Regions from separate parts of the Homo sapiens genome. Here regions 1 and 3 are each linked to region 2. Evidence: fine-mapped expression QTL. A gene starts in region 2. Each other region holds a variant in brackets. All regions are shown on one strand. Distances are between the middles of the regions.

Region 1 (6,260 bases), 220 kb after region 2:
CTTCATAGGCCTTCTCACAACATGACAGGTTACTCTTTCAAGCAGGATCATTTCTCTTCAGGAAGTAAGACAACTAGGTTGGGCACAGTGGCTCACACCTATAATCCCAGCACTCTGGGAGGCCAAGGCAGGTGGATCTTTTGAGCTCAGGAGTTCAAGACCAGCCTGGGCAATATGGTGAAACTCCATCTCTACACAAATTCAAAAATCAGCCAGGTGTAGTGGTGCACCTGGAATCTCAGCTATTTGGGAAGCTGAGGTGGGTGCACAGAAGGCTGGGAGGTCGAGGGTGCAGTGAGCCAAGATTGCACCACTTCATCACAGCCTGGGTGACAAAGCAAGACCCTATCTCAACAAAAAAAGAAAAAAGAAAGAAAAGAAAGTAAGGCAACTAAACATATTGAGTATGCCAAGAGAGTGCTCTTTCAAGATGGCCGAATAGGAACAGCTTCGGTCTGTAGCTCCCAGTGAGATTGACGCAGAAGATGGGTGATTTCTGCATTTCCAACTGAGGTACCTGGTTTATTGGTTCATCTCATCAAGACTGGTTGGACCGTGGGTGCAGTCCATGGAGGGTGAGCTGAAGCAGGGTGGGGCATCACCTCACCTGGGAAGTGCAAGGAGTCAGGGAATTTCCCTTTTCCAGCCAAGGGAAGCTGTGAGAGACTGTACCAGGAAGAACGGTACACTCCTGCCCAAATACTGCACTTTTGCCATGGTCTTTGCAACTGGCAGACCAGGAGATTTCCTCTGGTGCCTGGCTCGGTGGGTCCCACGCCCATGGAGCCCAGCAAGCTAATATCCATTGGCTTGAAATTCTCACTGCTAGAGCAGCAGACTGAAATTGACCTGGAATGCTGGAGCTTGCTGGGGGGAGGGGCATCCACCATTGCTGAGGCTTGAGTAGGCGATTTTATGCTCATAGTGTAAATAAAGCTGCCGGGAAGCTTGAACTGGTCAGAGCCCACTGCAGCTCAGCAAGGCTGACTGCCTCTCTAGATTCCACCTCTGTGGGCAGTGCATATCTGAACAAAAGGCAGCAGCCCCAGCCAGGGACTTATAGATAAAACCCTCATCTCCCTGGGACAGAGCACCTGGGGAAAGGGGCAGCTGTGGGCAAAGCTTCTCCAGACTTAAACGTCCCTGCCTGACAGCTCTGAAGAGAACAGTGGTTCTCCCAGTATGGCATTTGTGCTCTGATAATGGACAGACTGCCTCCTTAAGTGGGTCCCTGACCCCTGTGTAGCCTGACTGGGAGACACCTCCCAGTAGGGACAGAGAGACACCTCATACAGGAGAGCTCTGGCTGGCATCTTGTTGGTGCCCCTCTGGGATGAAACTTCCAGAGGAAGGATCAGGAAGCAATATTTGCTGTTCTGCAGCCTCTGCTGGTGATGCCTAGGCAATCAGCGTCTGGACCTCCAGCAAACTCCAACAGACCTGCAGCTGAGGGGCCTGACTGTTAGAAGGAAGACTAACAAACAGAAAGGAATAGCATCAACATCAACAAAAAGGACATCCACACCAAAACCCCATCTGTAGGTCACCAACATCAAAGACCAAAGGTAGATAAAACCACAAAGATGGGGAGAAACCAGAGCAGAAAGGCTGAAAATTCCAAAAATCAGAAGATTTCTTCTCCAAAGGACCACAACTCCTCACCAGCAAGGGAACAAAACTGGATGGAGAATGAGTTTGATGAGTTGACAGAAGTAGGCTTCAGAAGGTGGGTAATAACAAACTTCTCCGAGCTAAAGAAGCATGTTCTAACCCATCGCAAGCAAGTTGAAAACCTTGAAAAAAGGTTAGGGGAATGGCTAACTAGAATAACCAGTGTAGAGAAGAACATAAATGACCTGATGGAGCTGAAAAACACAGCATGAGAACTTCATGAAGCATACAAAAGCTTCAATAGCCGATTTGATCAAGGGAAGAAAGGATATCAGTGATTGAAGATCAAATTAATGAAATAAAGTAAGAAGACAAGATTAGAGAAAAAAGAGTGAAAAGAAATGAACAAAGCCTCCAAGGAATATGGGACTATGTGAAAAGACCAAATCTACGTTTGATTGGTGTACCTGAAAGTGACAGGGAGAATGGAACCAAGTTAGAAAACACTCTTCAGGATATTATCCAAGAGAACTTCCCCAACCTAACAAGGCAGGCCAACATTCAAATTCAGGAAATACAGAGAATGCCACAAAGATATTCCTCTAGAAGAGCCACCCTAAGACACATAATCATCAGATTCACCAAGGCTGAAATGAAGAAAAAAATGTTAAGGGCAGCCAGAGAGAAAGGTCCCACAAAGGGAAGCCCATCAGACTAACAGCAGATCTCTCGGCAGAAACTCTACAAGTCAGAAGAGAGTGGGGGCCAATATTCAACATTCTTAAAGAATTTTCAACCCAGAATTTCATATCCAACCAAACTAAGCTTCATAAATGAAGGAGAAATAAAATCCTTTACAGACAAGCAAATACTGAGTGATTTTGTCACCACCAGGCCTGCCTTACAAGAGCTCCTGAAGGAAGCACTAAACGTGGAAAGGAACAACTGGTACCAGCCACGGCAAAAGCATGCCAAATTGTAAAGACCATTGACGTTATGAAGAAACGTCATCATAATGTCATCATGCATAAACGTTAGTTGTTTGCATCAACTAACGTGCAAAACAACAAGCTAGCATCATAATGACAGGATCAAATTCACACATAACAATATTAACCTTAAATGTAAATGGGCTAAATGCCCCAATTAAAAGACACAGACTAGGAAATTGGATAAAGAGTCAAGACCCATCAATGTGCTATATTCAGGAGAACGATCTCACATGCAAAGACACACATAGGCTCAAAATAAAGGGACGGAGGAAGATCTACTAAGCAAATGGAAAGCAAAAAAGAAGCAGGAGTTGCAATCCTCATCTCTGATAAAACAGACTTTAAATGAACAAAGATCAAAAGAGACAAAGAAGGCCATTACATAATGGTAAAGGGATCAATTCAACAAGAAGAGCTAACTATACTAAATATCTGTGCACCCAATACAGGAGCACCCAGATTCATAAAGCAAGTCCTTAGAGACCTACAAAGAGACTTAGACTCCCACACAATAATAATGGGAGACTTTAACACCCCACTGTCAATATTAGACAGATCATTGAGACAGAAAATTAACAAGGATATCCAGGAATTGAACTCAGCTCTGCACCAAGTGGACCTAATAGGCATCTACAGAGCTCTCCACCCCAAATGTTGCAACAGAATATACATTCTTCTCAGCATCACAATGCACTTATTCTAAAATTGACCACATAATTGGAAGGAAAACACTCTTCAGCAAATGCAAAAGAACAGAAATCACAACAAACTGTCTCTCAGACCACAGTGCAATCAAACTAGAACTCAGGATTAAAAAACTCACTCAAAACCACACAACTACATGCAAACCGAACAACCTGCTCCTGAATGACTACTGGGTCAACAACGAAATGAAGGCAGAAATAAAGATGTTCTTTGAAACCAATGAGAACAAAGACACAATGTACCAGAATGTCTGGGACACATTTAAAGCAGTGTGCAGAGGGAAATTTATAGCACTAAATGACCACA[A/C]GAGAAAGCAGGAAAGATCTAAAATCGACACCCTAACATCATAATTAAAAGAACTAGAGAAGCAAGAGCAAACACATTTAAAAGCTAGCAGAAGACAAGAATAACTAAGATCAGAGCAGAACTGAAGGAGATAGGGACACAAAAAACCCTTCAAAAAATCAATGAATCCAGGAACTGGTTTTTTGAAAAGATCAACAAAATTGATAGACTGCTAGCAAGACAAAGAAGAAAAGAGAGAAGAATCAAATAGGTGCACTAAAAAATAATAAAGGGGATATCCCCACCGATCCCACAGAAATACAAACTACCATCAGAGAATACTACAAACACCTCTACGCAAATAAATTAGAAAATCTAGAAGAAATGGATAAATTCCTGGACACATACACCCTCCCAAGACTAAACCAGGAAAAAATTGAATCTCTGAATAGACCAATAACAGGTTCTGAAATTGAGGCAATAATTAATAGCCTACCAACCAAAAAAAGTCCAGAACCAGACAGATTCACAGCCAAATTCTACCAGAGGTACAAAGAGGAGCTGGTACCATTCCTTCTGAAACTATTCCAATCAATAGAAAAAGAGGGAATCCTCCATAACTCATTCTATGAGGCCAGCACCATCCTGACATCAATGTCTGGCAGAGACACAACAAAAAAGAGAATTTTAGGCCAATGTCTTTGATGAACATCAATGCGAAAATCCTCAATGAAATACTGGCAAGCCGAATCCAGCAGCACATCAAAAAGCTTATCCACCACAACGAAGTCGGCTTCATCCCTGGGATGCCAGGCTGGTTCAACATATGCAAATCAATAAATGTAATCCATCACGTAAACAGAACCAATGACAAAAACCACATGATTATCTCAATAGACGCAGAAAAGGCCTTCGACAAAATTCAACAGCCCTTCATGCTAAAAACTCTCAATAAACTAGGTATTGATGGAACGTATCTCAAAATAATAAGAGCTGCTTATGACAAGCCCACAGCCAATATCATACTGAATGGGCAAAAGCTGGAAGCATTCCCCTTGAAAACCAGCACAAGACAAGGATGCCCTCTCTCACCACTCCTATTCTACATAGTACTGGAAGTTCTGGCCAGGGCAATCATGCAAGAGAAAGAAATAAAGTGTACTCAATTAGGAAAAGAGGAAGTCAAATTGTCCCTGTTTGCAGATGACATGATTGTACATTTAGAAAACCCCTTGTCTCAGCCCAAAATCTCCTTAAGCTGATAAGCAACTTCAGCAAAGTCTCAGGATACAAAATCAATGTGAAAAAATCACAAGCATTCCTATACACCAATAAAAGACAGAGAGCCAAATCATGAGTGAACTCCCATTCACTATTGCTACAAAGGGAATAAAATACCTAGGAATCCAACTTATAAGGGATGTGAAGGACCTCTTCAAGGAGAACTACAAACCACTGCTCAATGAAATAAAAGAGGACACAAACAAATGGAAGAACATTCCATGCTCATGGATAGAAGGAATCAATATCATGAAAATGGCCATACTGCCCAAAGTAATTTATAGATTCAATGCTATCAAGCTACCACTGACTTTCTTCACAGAATTGGAGAAAACTACTTTAAAGTTCATGTGGAACCAAAAAAGAGCCCTCATAGCCAAGACAATCCTAAGCAAAATGAACAAAGCCGGAGGCATCATGCTACCTGACTTCAAACTATACTACAAGGCTACAGTAACCAAAACAGCATGGTACTTGTACCAAAACAGAGATATAGACCAATGGAACAGAACAGAGCCTTCAGAAATAACACCACACATCTACAACCATCTGATTTTTGACAAACCTGACAAAAACAAGAAATGGGGAAAGGATTCCCTATTTAATAAGTGGTGCTGGGAAAACTGGCTAGCCATATAGAAAGCTGAAACTGGATCCCTTCCTTACACCTTATACAAAAATTAAATCAGATGGATTAAAGACTTAAATGTAAGACCTAAAACCATAAAAACTCCAGAGGAAAACCTAGGCAATACCATTCAGGACATAGGCATGGGCAAATACTTTATGACTAAAATACCAAAAGCAATGGCAACAAAAGCCAAAATCGACAAATGGGATCTAATTAAACTAAAGAGCTTCTGCACAGCAAAATAAACTATCAGCAGAGTGAACAGGCAACCTACAGAATGGGAGAAAATTTTTACAATCTATCCATCTGACAAAGGGCTAATATCCAGAATCTACAAAGAACTTAAACAAATTTACAAGAAAAAACAAACAACCCCATCATAAAGTGGGCAAAGGATATGAACAGACACTTCTCAAAAGAAGACATTTATGCAGCCAAAAGACACATGAAAAAATCTTCATCATCACTGGTCATTAGAGAAATGCAAATCAAAACTACAATTAGATACCATCTCACGCCAATTAGAATAGTGATCATTAAAAAGTCAGGAAACAACAGATGCTGGAGAGGATGTGGAGAAATAGGAACACTTTTACACTGTTGGTGGGAGTGTAAATTAGTTCAACCATTGTGGAAGACAGTGTGGCAATTCCTCAAGGATCTAGAACTAGAAATACCATTTGACTGAGCCATCACATTACTGGGTATATACCCAAAGGATTATAAATCATGCTGCTATAAAGACACATGCACAC
Region 2 (6,260 bases):
TTGAGAGAGTCTCGCTCTGTCACCCAGGCTGGAATGCAGTGACATGATCTTGGCTCACTGCAACCTCCGCCTCTCAGGTTCAAGCGATTCTCCTGCCTCAGCCTCTTCAGTAGCTGGGATTACAGGCACGCACCATCACGCCCAGCTAATTTTTGTATTTTTAGTAGAGATGGGGGTTTCACCATGTTGGTCAGGCTGGTCTCGAACACCTGACCTCGTGATCCATCTGCCTCGGACTCCCAAAGTGTTGGGATTACAGGCGTGAGCCACTGCGCCTGGCCAAGGATAAATATTTTTGAGACAGAGTCTCACTCTGTCACCCAGGTTAGAGTGCAGTGGTGCGATCATGGCTCACTGTAGCCTTGAACTTTCAGGCTCAAGTGATCCTCTTACCTCAGCCTCCTGAGAAGCTAGGACTACAAGCAAATACCACCACGCTTAGATAATTTTTAAAATTTTTTGTAGAGATGGGGTCTCACTATTTTACCCAGGCTGTTCTTGAACTCCTGGCCTCAAATGATCCTATCGCCTCAGCCTCCCAAAGTGCTGAAATTACAGGCATGAGCCACTGTGCCTAGTCTTATTATTTTTATAGTTAAAAAAAATCAATGCTCAAATACATCAAATAACTTGCCTAAGGACAATCCGCTAGTGGGAGGCTGAGCTGGAGTTCTGGGCCAGGCCTGTGAATCATCCTCCCTGTTTCCTTTAAAATTTAGCCTGGGTGCCTCTCCATCTATCACACCTTGAGCCCTGGTAGGCCCTCCCAGAAAGAAGGTCCACAGTGTGCCACATGGGCAGGGGACAGAAGCAGGTATGGGCGTCCCCAGGCCTGATCTCTGGCCTTCTGCCAGGCTGCCTGCATCCTGGAGGTTAATGAGGGCAGAGGGAGGGGCCACAGGTCCAGCAGGGATTAATTACAGAAGGAGAGACGCCCAGAGGAGGGCCTGGCAATAACAGGAGCCCAGGCTGGGGACTAGGATCACGTGACAGACAAGCAGTTTCCGCCTTTGTAAGTCCCAATGTCTCCTGTGAAAACCTGTAGCTGACGGCAATGATGAGGAGACATCAGGATCTGCTTGTCTATATTTTCTTCCTGTTCCACCCAAAGGACCCTGACTCCATCGTCCTAATGGAGCCAGGCTGGGACATCAGGGGACTGAACAACAGTGCACAACCAGGCTCCAGGCAGGCCTCTTGCACAGCTCTCCTAGCAGGGGAGGGATGCAGTGGCTTCACAGCCCCAGTGCACTGCTCTCATTGAGAGACATTTTGTCCGGGGTTATTCTCACCTAGTCCTTAGAATGGGGAGAGAGTCACTCAGAGACTTGGATAATGCTCAATGCCACATAATCAGCAAGGTGTTCTTTTTTTTTTTTTGAGAAGGAGTTTCATTCTTGTTGCCCAGGCTGGAGTGCAATGGCATGATCTTACTTACTGCAACCTCCGCTTCTCAAGTTCAAGCGATTCTCCTGCCTCAGCCTTCCAAATAGCTGGGATTACAGGGATGTACCACCATGCCTGGCTAATTTTGTATTTTCAGTAGAGACAGGGTTTCACCATGTTGGTCAGGCTGGTCTCGAACTCCTGATGTCAGGTGATCCACCCGCCTCGGCCTCCCAAAGTGCTAGGATTACAGGTGTGAGCCACCACACCTGACCCAGCAAGCTGTTTTTATCAGGTGTTGGTATAAAACCTAGATGATTGTTTCTTTGGCTGGGGGACAGTATTGCAGGGAAGGCAGGCTAGGCTAGCATTCCTGCTGTCATTTATTTCCATTCAGGAGTCAGGTCCCTGACCCCCTACCTCATGCCAGGCCCTTCCCTAGGTGTGGGCAGTGGGCAGACTCTGGGGGTCGAGATGCTGACAGTGTCATTGACTCAGCTGGGGCTCACCCTGAAGTTTCGGGGTGGGGATGACACCATGCAGTGGTGCGAGGGCAGGGCTGGGAGCGGGGTCTGAGCTGTCTCTCCACCTGGGTCCACAAAAGATGAAGGAGAGCAGCATCGATGACTTGATGAAGAGCCTGGACAAGAACAGCGACCAGGAGATCGACTTCAAGGAGTACTCGGTGTTCCTGACCATGCTGTGCATGGCCTACAACGACTTCTTTCTAGAGGACAACAAGTGACCAGGGCTGCCCTCCACCCTCACCCTCCACCCTTTGCTGCTGACCTCGGCTGCTCCTCTCACAGACCCTCTTTGGCCCCCTGCCCTCCTCTCCCTCCCAGATGGACCCTTCCATGGGAGGAAATAAAGTTTCCATCGCAGGTGCTGGGAGTCTGGTTTTGAAGCTGTCTTGTCTACCTTGGCCTGGGGAGAGGGGAGCACAGGAAGGGTCTCTCCTTGAGTGGGTTGAGACAGCTTCTGCCTCTGGGGGTTAGGGTCCTGGGCTCCCACTGCATTCCTCTCCTTCTTTGGTGTGGACGTCATTGGTTTTGTCATGGCTTAGTTTTGCCTGCCTGGAAAATGGGGAAGTTAGGCCAGGCGGGAACTCTGCAAGGATGCAGAGGAAGTTAAGAGGGAAAGTTGCTTTGAGAGGAGGACACTGGGAGGGGTTGGGAGTGGCTCCTGAGGGCGGTGATAGGCAGGCAGGCCTGACTTGTCCACAGCTCACCGGAGGCCACCTTGGCAGCACCTGTAGGAAGGGCATGTCTGGCCTCCACACCAGCCCCCTCCCTCTTCACCATTTCCCCTTCAATAGCACCACTCTCATCATCTATGGGGGACAGTGCTTTCTTCTCTCCCTGCCTCCTCCATCAAAATCTTTTCTCAGGGGAGGGTCTGAAAAGGCCTTCACTCCCCCGTAAATAACGAATGGTGCTTACAGGGCTGGGCTCCCACGTGCATGCACATTAACACCAAAGGTGCTGTAGTGAATGGAATTTGGGGCACTGAGGGGAAGGAGTGGAGGTGTTGGTAGGAACTTGTTGCTGGTGGGGGATGGGCGCCGTAGATATCCTTTACACCACTGGCTACTCCCCCTATCTCCTCTGGGGTGACCCTGAGTATCCTCTGTGGGACACCGGCATCCTGTGAGGCGCCCTCCTTGCCCACATTGACGCTGCGCTGGCTCGAGGGTCACATTCACGGTCTGGCAGAGGAAGCAGGGGTGACCGCCGCAGTCCTCCTCCTGCTCCCCTTGCCGAGTCACGTGTCACGAAGAGCAAACTGAGCAAACTGAGCTGCGCAGATGAGGGGAGACTCGTCACCAGGCGTGCAGTGGGCACTGCTGGGCTCCCCCATCCCGTCCTAACCCGGAACAGCCCCGGGCAGGAGGCGTGGAAAGTCGAGGGGGTAAACCGCGAATGTGCGTTGTGTAAGCCACGGCGCAGGGTGGGGCGCGGGCGGGACTTGGGCGGGCGGGGTGGGCTTGGCCGAGCTGGCCTCCGGGGCACCGACCGCTATAAGGCCAGTCGGACTGCGACACAGCCCATCCCCTCGACCGCTCGCGTCGCATTTGGCCGCCTCCCTACCGGTGAGTTCTCTCCAGGAGCCCTGGGTACTTTCCAGGGCCAGCTGCCCTCACGCTGGGGGTCCAGCCATCCCCTGCCCAGTTCAGCCGCTGGATCCAGACTGGGGCCATCTGTGGCGCTCCCCCGCTGGAGGGATAGTCAGGAGCAGCAGTGCTGTGCCAGGCAGGCCTTGGGCTAAGGGATCGCAATGGGGTGTGCTCTTTTGGGGTGCGGAAGGGAGTGCCCTGGGTGTGTCATTGCCACCATGTGTGGCCCTGTGAAGCTGTGTTTAAGCTGCCTTTGCAGCCTCCATTCCCCTCCCCTGCCCAGCCATACTCCTCAACTTCTGGATCCCCTGAAGGACAGTTCTCAGCTGTGCCCAAAGCTACTGTTCCTATATGCTTCTTAGAATCCTTAAGCCACCTCTCTTGCCTTGGCCCTAGTGTGCTCTCTCCTTCCCCTTCAAGCCCTGGGCTGTCTCCTGATGCCATTGTGTGTGGCCTGAGACTGGGTGGTTCCAAAGGAGGCGGGGCTAGTGCAGGCAGCATTATTGGGGTGTGTGGGTGAGAAGTCCTTGCTCCCATGGCACTGACTAGGCCCTCTGCTGCCAGCTCCAAGCCCAGCCCTCAGCCATGGCATGCCCCCTGGATCAGGCCATTGGCCTCCTCGTGGCCATCTTCCACAAGTACTCCGGCAGGGAGGGTGACAAGCACACCCTGAGCAAGAAGGAGCTGAAGGAGCTGATCCAGAAGGAGCTCACCATTGGCTCGGTGAGTGGCCTCCTCCCCAGGACCCCTTTTCCCACCCTTGTCCTTTGGAAGCAGGATTAGGGGAGAGAGAGGTGCCAGGTGCATCTGACTCACATTTACCCACATTCTGAGGCCCTGGTCCACATGTAGACCCTGAGCTGTAGACCCACTCTCCCAGCGGGTAGGGGATGCTTCCAGCCGGATATCCATCTCTCCAAATGAGGACCAGTAACTGAGAAGTAGCTGAGGAGAAGCAATGCCAAAGTGACATGGGTCCTTGGTGATGAGGGAGCACAGAGCCACTTGCAGAGAGGATTGCCTGGGAGGGGGAAGGGGAAGAATCCAGGGTTGTCATCACCACTGAGTATGGATTTCACATTCTAACACATTAGAAGCTGCAGGATGCTGAAATTGCAAGGCTGATGGAAGACTTGGACCGGAACAAGGACCAGGAGGTGAACTTCCAGGAGTATGTCACCTTCCTGGGGGCCTTGGCTTTGATCTACAATGAAGCCCTCAAGGGCTGAAAATAAATAGGGAAGATGGAGACACCCTCTGGGGGTCCTCTCTGAGTCAAATCCAGTGGTGGGTAATTGTACAATAAATTTTTTTTGGTCAAATTTACCCTTGCGTCCTGGCTTCCGAATGATTTCTGTTCCTCCTTGGCTTAGTGGGACACCAGCCATTGGAAGATTTGCTCACGGTCAACCTCTGAAAATGACTCATTGACTCGCCAGGCCAGAGGACCCACCCTGACAAGGCTGCCTCTAGCACATAAGGTGCCTTTATGTGAATGAGGAGAGATGCCCCTCTTGGCAACGCCATCCTAAGGAAAGGCTCAAGTGGTTTCCAGTAGAGAGAGTCCTGGGATGAGCTTGGAGATGGAAATGGTCCCTGGGCCGGGATGTGATGGGGTTTGGGGGCCTGGAAGTGAGGCAGAGATAGTCCCAGAGGCTCCCAGATGTGTTTTGCTCTGGGTGTGGCAAGAGGGGCCCTGGGGTGGGGCAAGTCCCCTTTCTCATCACAGCGCAGGGGTTAGATAGGGCACATCTGAGATGCCTGAGGCTTGGCTCAGGGAGTTTCCTACACCAGTGAGGACGCTGTGTGACTGAGTCTACTGCGGCTGCCCAGGTCCCAGGTGGAGTGGGGGAGGCACACTCTTGGAGTGTGTCCCTGCATTCAGGGTGAGGGCTTTTTGTTGGAACGGTGGTCTGAGGAGCTGGCAGCTGCACCAACACGTGAACCACGGGGTGTTCAGTAATGGGGCGGGGTATCCCTGCAGCCTCAGCGTAATGACTCACCCGGCACTTCCACGGGATCCCAGCCTGGATCTCAGCCCCCATCAGAGAAGATGACTAATTGAATCATTGTCCATCATCTGGATTAGTGTTTTCAGGCAGAAGGGAAGAGGATAAGGAGGGTAAACGCTGTTTCCGGGTGATGCCACATCATTCAGCCTCTCTAGGCCTAGTCCGAGCTGGGCAAGTTTACCTCTAGCTTCTGGGGAAGAGATCTTGACTTTAGATGGAGACCACATCCTTCTTTCCCTCTCACCTCCCCACTTCCCTTGGGGGTCCAACTTTGTGGAATTAAGTTGTCTTCTGTCCCCACTGGGTGGGGATTGGTAAACAGCTGGGAGATGCACCTTCTTGGAGGCCCTCCTTCTCTATTGCCTCCCCTGCCCTGCAGGGAGAAGTCGCGCTGTTGGTTGCAAGAGACCGGGGGCCGAATTCCCTCTCTGCACAGCCGTGCCCAAGCCTTGGCTCTATTCAGCTCCCTCTGGAAAAGTACGCGCTCCCTAACCCCTCCCGCGCCCCTCTAGGTTCCCGCCCTACACCCCTTTCCTCCCCCTTTCTTCCAGTCCCTCTCCGCCTGCCTTCCAGTGGCTGACAACTTGGGGTTCGGAGCGAGCGCCCTCCTGTGGACAGAGAGCAGGGCGCTGCGGGGACAGTCGGGTTGGTTTTCTTGAGCCTCTGGCAGGGGCCCGCCGTGGGGCTGTGGCCTGGCAGTCAGGGGAGTCCTTAGGAAGAGGAAGACAGAATAGGGCGCCCCGGGA
Region 3 (6,260 bases), 30 kb before region 2:
ACCCCTTACTAATTGTGTGAATTTGGCAGACTTTGAGTCTCAGTGTTCTCCTCTGTGAAGTGGGGTCATCTTATTCCAACTCCTGGGATTGTTGTGTGAATTAAATGGGGTAATGTACGGAGAGCACCTGACGCACAGCGAGTGCTTCAAAATTTCAGTCTGCACCCCCCAGCAAAGGATATGCACACGCCCATTGTGAGTGACAAATCCAGGATGACCTGAACCCAATGTGATAACGTGGGTCCTCGCATGCTGGTCATGCTGCCGGGAGACACTTATGGATCCAATTAGTACAACAGGGGAAATAAATTATTTAATGCATTTTGCTAAGACAGAATACCTCAGAACTTATTTTGTGGGGCGGGGCATAATAAAGGGGGTCCTTCTGCTGAAAACGTTTAAGCTCAGGTTCGTGGCACCACTCAACCAAGGTCGACAGTCACACAGTAAGCCAGAGGCAATGTCAGGACTTAAACTAAACCTGTGGCCCCCACAATGAGGCCATTTCTCTTTCCCCTGAACGGCCTGGGGAAAGGGGGTGGGTGGGCAGAACTTGGCAGTGGCCAATCCCTCACTTCTGTCCCCTGGTTTTCTCCTGCCCTTATCTCTAGGCTTGCATTGATTGATTGATTGAGACAGGGTCTTGCTCTGTCGTCCAGGCTGGAGTGCAGTGGCACGATCATGGCTCACTGCAGCCTCAAACTCCTAGGCTCAAGTGGTCTTTCCGCCTCCTATCTCCCGAGTACCCATATCCCTAGGCTTTTAAAATGGCTTCCAGGTATCTGGCTGCCGTCTCAGACATCCACCTGGGCTTCTGGGCAGGGACTGTCCGGGAAACCTCATCTATGTGAAGCAGGTGTGGGTGTAGGAAGGCCGCTTGGAAATGAATCAGCACTGTCTCCTGTTTGAGTCGTAAGCAGGGCGCCAGAGGGTCTGGCGGACAAGAAAGGGAGGATGACAGGAGGCCGGCACTGCAATGACACGCCTTAGCCACCAGAGGGCACGAAGCAGCTGGGCAAAATCCCGCGGGGCCGCTGGTGGAAAATTTCTGGCACCTGGAGCCCGGAGATGGGGTGGACGGAATGTGAGGACCCAGCTTCCTGAGGCTGGGCCGGGGCAGAGTCACTGCTTTGGATGTCCGCAGGGCCTGCTTGTGTCTTGACTACTCTGCCTTTGTAGACAGCTGGAGAATGTGAGAGTGGGATTGGGATCGGACTCTAGGGGCCATTCCGTACAACTCTCCTGCCCTGCCGTGGGGGAGGGAGTTGCCCAAGGTTACGCAGCAAGTTAGTGGCAAATGAATACGATTATCACCAGTCTCAGGTATATGGCCATTTGATGGGCGCAGTCGCAGCCTCAGTTCCTGAGACAGAGACACCTGATTAAGGACAGGCCTTCAGGAGCTGACCCTAGTGACCCGCGGCTCTGCTGCTGTCTCTGTTTTTCTCCCTGGCTTTTCCATCTGACTGACTCTTTGTCTTCTTCGTCTGCCTGCCTGTCTCCGTCTCTGCCCGCTGGGGGGTTTGCTCAACTCCCTCACTGGGTCCTGGGAGCCGCAGTTTCCTGCTGTCACTCCTCAGGGATTTGTAGCTCTCTGAAGCTCTTTTCCGACCCGTTGTCTCGGTTCCACTCTTGGGATCCAGAGGAGAGGTGATTATTTCGTAGCATAGTCAGTGGTGTGATTTCACGGGGTGAGAAGGACTCCCTTGCTCCTAAGCACTCCTCCAGTGACCCCTGTTGCCATGTGGTAGCCGTAAGCACTGGTTGGCACCTGGTGTGGGCGAGACCCTTACCTCATGCAGAAATGAGTAAGACCGGTGAGCTCACCATGTGGGGGTGAGGCTGAGAGAAAACAAGTACACAGGTGATTCAGTCAAAATCAGAATTCTCTAAGTACACACGAAAAGGGCAAAAGGGGCGCTTTGTACAGGACAGAACAGGTAGACACTGAATCCGGTTGGGCCCTGGGAAGGCTCCCTGCAGTGGCCTTTGAAGGGGGGGTTGGATTTCAGCAGGATAGAGGGCATGGGCATGTGTGGGCACGTTCTGAACAGAGGGGTCAGCGCAAGCCGAGGGTCTTGGCCACACTAGTTGCATGTGCCGGTGTGTTTAAGGGACACGCAGCAGCAGGCCGAGTCTGGAGCGCCTCACTGCCAGGCTTTTTAAAAATTTTTAATTTTAATTTAATTTTATTTTATTTTTACTTTAAGTTCTGGCATACATGTGCAGAATGTGGTTTGTTACATAGGTATACATGTGCCATGGTGGTTTGCTGCACCTATCAACCCATCATCTAGGTTTTAAGCCCCGCATGCATCAGGTATTAGTCCTAATGCTCTCCCTCCCCTTGCCCCCATCCTTCTCCCCGCAACTGCCCACAGGCCCTGGTATGTGGTGTTCCCTTCCCTGTGTCCATATGTTCTCATTGTTCAACTCCCACTTATGAGTGAGAACATACCGCCTGGCTTTAAGGGACAGCCATGGGGATGCACTGCAGTTTCTGAGCAGGGAAGGCCCTGTGGAGGCCCTTAGTTAAAAGGAAAGAATGGCTGTGAAAATCGATGCATTGCGCTCCCTTGTCCCTCACCCTCAGTGTGAAGGGTTTTTATTCCGAGTTCTACTTGAAGTAGGCCTCGATGGGAAGACAAGTAGCATGAGGGGTTCAAGTACTGAGGGGAGCAAGGGACACTCGGTGGCTGTGCCAAGGTGTAGAAGAGGACACTGGGGGCCCCAAGGCCTGACTTCATGTACACTGCTCAGGCTGGCCCCCAAGTCACACGGTGACCGCTAGGAAGGGACCAGCCTGTTCTCAGTCTGATCCTCCTGCCATGTCATTATCCAAAGCTCCTCCTGGCAGGGCCTGTTTGGGGTCTCTGTGCCAGTGCTTTCCCTGCCAGGCTGGGCTGGGGCTTCCACCTACTGCTCTGGGACTGCTGCTGCCCTGGCCCTGGGGGAGGAGGGTGTGCCGCTGAGTCACTGCCTGGGCATCTGGGCCTGGAACCTCGGGTGAGTCACTTAGGGCTGAGGTAGAGGGGCTGGGGGAGGGGAAGAAGCTACTCGACAGCTGGAGCAGGGAGGGGAGCTGGGGCCACAGGAAGGGC[G/A]GTGCCCTGATGCCCAGACGGGCCGGGATAGACAAAGGGCCAAGGAGGAAGGGGCCCTGGGAGGGGGCAGCCCTCCCTTGGGCTGGGCTCTGAATGGCCACAGTGTTTGCCTTTCTCCGGGTCTGGGGAGGACATGTGTGTGGGGGGCAGTGAGAGAGGGCTGTGGCTGAGGGCTGTGCTTCAGGCCTGGATTCTGGCTTGGGAAGCTGTCCAGCTGGTGTTTTCAGCCTTGGGTAGGGATGTACCCCTACCCACCCACCCAGCCCTCAAGCTGGAGAAGAGGAGGCCAAAGTTTTCCTGTTCAGCCTTTAACTACTCGGGACTTCCTTATGCTCCCCACAGACTGTGGCCCAGCCCAACTGCGGCTGTGTGTAGAGCAACCCCATTTCTCACTGCTTCCCCATCCTTCCAGACACCTTCCTACACAGAGGGACCTTCCCAGGTATTTCTAAGCACACTTAGTTACCTCATTACCTCATTAAGAGGTATTCTGGTGCTGGCCATTAAAAGTCACTCCACTTCATCCATGCCCTGAAGTCAGTCCTGTCCTTCTCCTCCTGATGTCCCCCAGCTGCCTCCTCTGGCCCCCAGCTTCCTAAGGGTGGCCCCAGGTTGCTTCTCTCTCACACACACGGGCGCATGTATGTACACGAGCACTGGACCATGAAGTCTCAGCGTGTGCTCACAGCCTCTCACACAGGAGTGGGCTGTGACTCACAGGCATGTCATGAGAATGAGGCCTGGCACCAGTCTCCAGGCCCCAGAGCAGGGGTTGCCTCCCCTCACCCCGGTCCAGGATGCCCAGTCCCCACGACACCTCCCACTTCCCACTGTGGCCTGGGTGGGCTCAGGGGCTGCCCTTGACCTGGCCTAGAGCCCTCCCCCAGCTGGTGGTGGAGCTGGCACTCTCTGGGAGGGAGGGGGCTGGGAGGGAATGAGTGGGAATGGCAAGAGGCCAGGGTTTGGTGGGATCAGGTTGAGGCAGGTTTGGTTTCCTTAAAATGCCAAGTTGGGGGCCAGTGGGGCCCACATATAAATCCTCACCCTGGGAGCCTGGCTGCCTTGCTCTCCTTCCTGGGTCTGTCTCTGCCACCTGGTCTGGTGAGTACCTCTGTCCTGCTGAGGGCAGGGTGGGGAGGATCCCCGTGGGTCTCTGTCTTTGTCTCCACAGTTCTCTCATTCCAGCTTCCCTGGTGGGATCAACCTGGGCCTCTCTGGGCCTTCCCCCTTGGAAGAACTCTCTGTGAAGTGCTGAAGTGTTGACTGAAGGGTTTTTTTTTTTTTTTTTTTTTTTTGAGATGGAGTCTCGCTCTGTCGCCCAGGCTGGAGTACAGTGGTGTGATCTCAGCTCACTGCAAACTCCCCCTCCCAGGTTCACGCCATTCTCCTGCCTCAGCCTCCCGAGTAGCTGGGACTGCAGGCGCCCACCACCATGCCCGGCTAATTTTTTTGTATTTTTAGTAGAGATGGGGTTTCACCATGTTAGCCAGGATGGTCTCGATCTCCTGATCTCGTGATCCACCCATCTCGGCCTCCCAAAGTGCTGGGATTACAGGAGTAAGCCACCGCGCCCGGCCGACTGAAGGGTTTTTCTCCAGGTTCCTCTGTGAGGTCTCAGTGCAGGGGTTGCTCTGAGGCCCTCCCCTGGATATCTCAGTCTAGGGGCCCTTCTTTGGGGGTCTAGGCCTAGGAGCAGGAGGTGTGCATGTGGGCGTTGCTGCAAAAAGAATCCTGAGATTTTTTTTTTTTTTTGCAAAGTCCTGGATTCTAGCAGGACTAAGGTGCAAGAGGCAGGGGTCTCAAGACTCTGCCTGGGTCATGGCCCCAAGCAGCAAAGCTCTGCCCCCTGCCTCGGTGAAGGCAGGGCTGGCATGATGGGCCCAGGGCATGCCCTGCCTCTGGCATAGCTCCTCTGGCCTCACCCTGAAACCTGCCTAACCTTTCCAGGCTGGTCTGAGTATTCTCAGAGGCCTTGCCGCTGAGGTCTGTCCCATCCTGATCCCAAGGCAATGAACATTTCATATCTTTAATTCTAATTCCAACAGGATCCTTCCTGGTGGAGAGAATGTTAAGTTGCCCCCACCCTATCCATGCCCCTGTCTGCCTAGAGGCTCAGGGGCCTTCAGGGTGAGGGGAGACACATTCCCCACCCTCTGGGAGCTCCTAGTCTGAGAGAGGAAACACTCCTGCCCAAGGGAGCTTCCAGTTAGATGGCAGAGAGAGATGCCTCTGGCTTCAGGAGTCCCGAGTCTAAGGAGGGAAACGACTCCTTCAGGGAGCTTCCTGCTCCTAGGCTGTAGCCATGGCTCCTGCCAGACTGCACAGGAGCCCCCATCTGCCAGCCGGTGCATGTGGCCCTGCTCCCCAGAGCCTGCGCAGATGCCATCAAAATGGGACTCTGGTCACCCTGTCATTTCCCTTCTGGCAGACACTAAAATGGGGAGCCCTGCCCTCAGGGGGGTGTCCCAAGTGCCATCAGAGGAGGCTTGGTGACTCCCAGACACAAGGGAAGCTTTAGCGTCTGCCCTCAGGGTGAGATGGAGGTATCGCCTCCGGCCTCAGGGAACCACAGTCTGAGGGGGAGATGCAGCCCCTGCCTTCCCATTCAGAGAGGGGTTTTGTGAGGTGGCTTGGGGGCATAGGGCAGAAGTGGATCCTACAGGCTGAGCTAAGGCCCCAAGAGCCTCAGCAGTGTACCCATCACCTGGCACCTCTGCAGCCACAGATCCATGATGTGCAGTTCTCTGGAGCAGGCGCTGGCTGTGCTGGTCACTACCTTCCACAAGTACTCCTGCCAAGAGGGCGACAAGTTCAAGCTGAGTAAGGGGGAAATGAAGGAACTTCTGCACAAGGAGCTGCCCAGCTTTGTGGGGGTGAGTGGCACAGGCCTGTGGGGGAGGTCCTGGTGTGAGTGTGGGGGTGCAGGTTAAATCTCTCCCCCAGTTCCGGGTGCCTGTCGATGCAGGTGCCAGGGTGGGGCCCAGCCCCCTCCCCACTTTAGCTTCATGGCTCCACTGGAGTGGAAATGAGGCCCGAGTGGGAGTGCTTAATTAATGGCTGTTTCCTGCAGCATTCCAGAGAACCATGTGCTGTGAGGGCCTTCCGAGTCCATCTGTTTAATCCTGTCATTGGAGACTTGAGAAACCAGAGCCCAGAAGG

Which allele goes with the higher level. Positions count from the first base shown, and alleles are read on the strand shown. Sizes are in standard deviations (SD) of each study's normalised expression. Not every link is listed here.
For the expression in rectum of the gene that starts at base 3,436 in region 2, C is the high allele of the variant in region 1 and A is the other (large effect, 1.7 SD a copy in CEDAR).

The links. PIP is the estimated chance that this variant, and not a neighbour inherited with it, causes the effect.
Region 1: its variant is fine-mapped to the expression of S100A6 in rectum (CEDAR, PIP 0.95).
Region 3: its variant is fine-mapped to the expression of S100A6 in whole blood (TOPMed, PIP above 0.99).

Annotation. Positions count from the first base shown.
Region 1 is chr1:153,314,733-153,320,992 of GRCh38, reverse strand. No RefSeq gene overlaps it. Among named protein-coding and RNA genes, the nearest start is that of PGLYRP3, 4.9 kb to the right of the region's middle. The variant A/C (reference allele first, on the strand shown) is at 3,615.
Region 2 is chr1:153,533,167-153,539,426 of GRCh38, reverse strand. S100A6 (S100 calcium binding protein A6) reads left to right here and starts at 3,436. Exons shown (of 3, transcript NM_014624.4): 1 at 3,436-3,478; 2 at 4,067-4,225; 3 at 4,597-4,828. The coding sequence starts at 4,088. The coding sequence ends at 4,731. It overlaps S100A5 (S100 calcium binding protein A5), which reads left to right. Exons shown (of 3, transcript NM_001394232.1): 3 at 1,991-2,280. The coding sequence ends at 2,131. LOC124904423 (a long non-coding RNA gene) reads right to left here and starts at 5,985. Exons shown (of 2, transcript XR_007066630.1): 1 at 5,506-5,985; 2 at 1,752-4,523. RefSeq lists enhancers at 2,811-3,446, 5,400-5,694.
Region 3 is chr1:153,563,448-153,569,707 of GRCh38, reverse strand. It overlaps S100A2 (S100 calcium binding protein A2), which reads left to right and starts at 3,864. Exons shown (of 3, transcript NM_005978.4): 1 at 3,864-4,202; 2 at 5,821-5,974. The coding sequence starts at 5,831. RefSeq lists enhancers at 1,720-2,476, 2,703-2,942, 2,640-3,839, 3,813-3,872, 3,992-4,749 and 1 more. The variant G/A (reference allele first, on the strand shown) is at 3,102.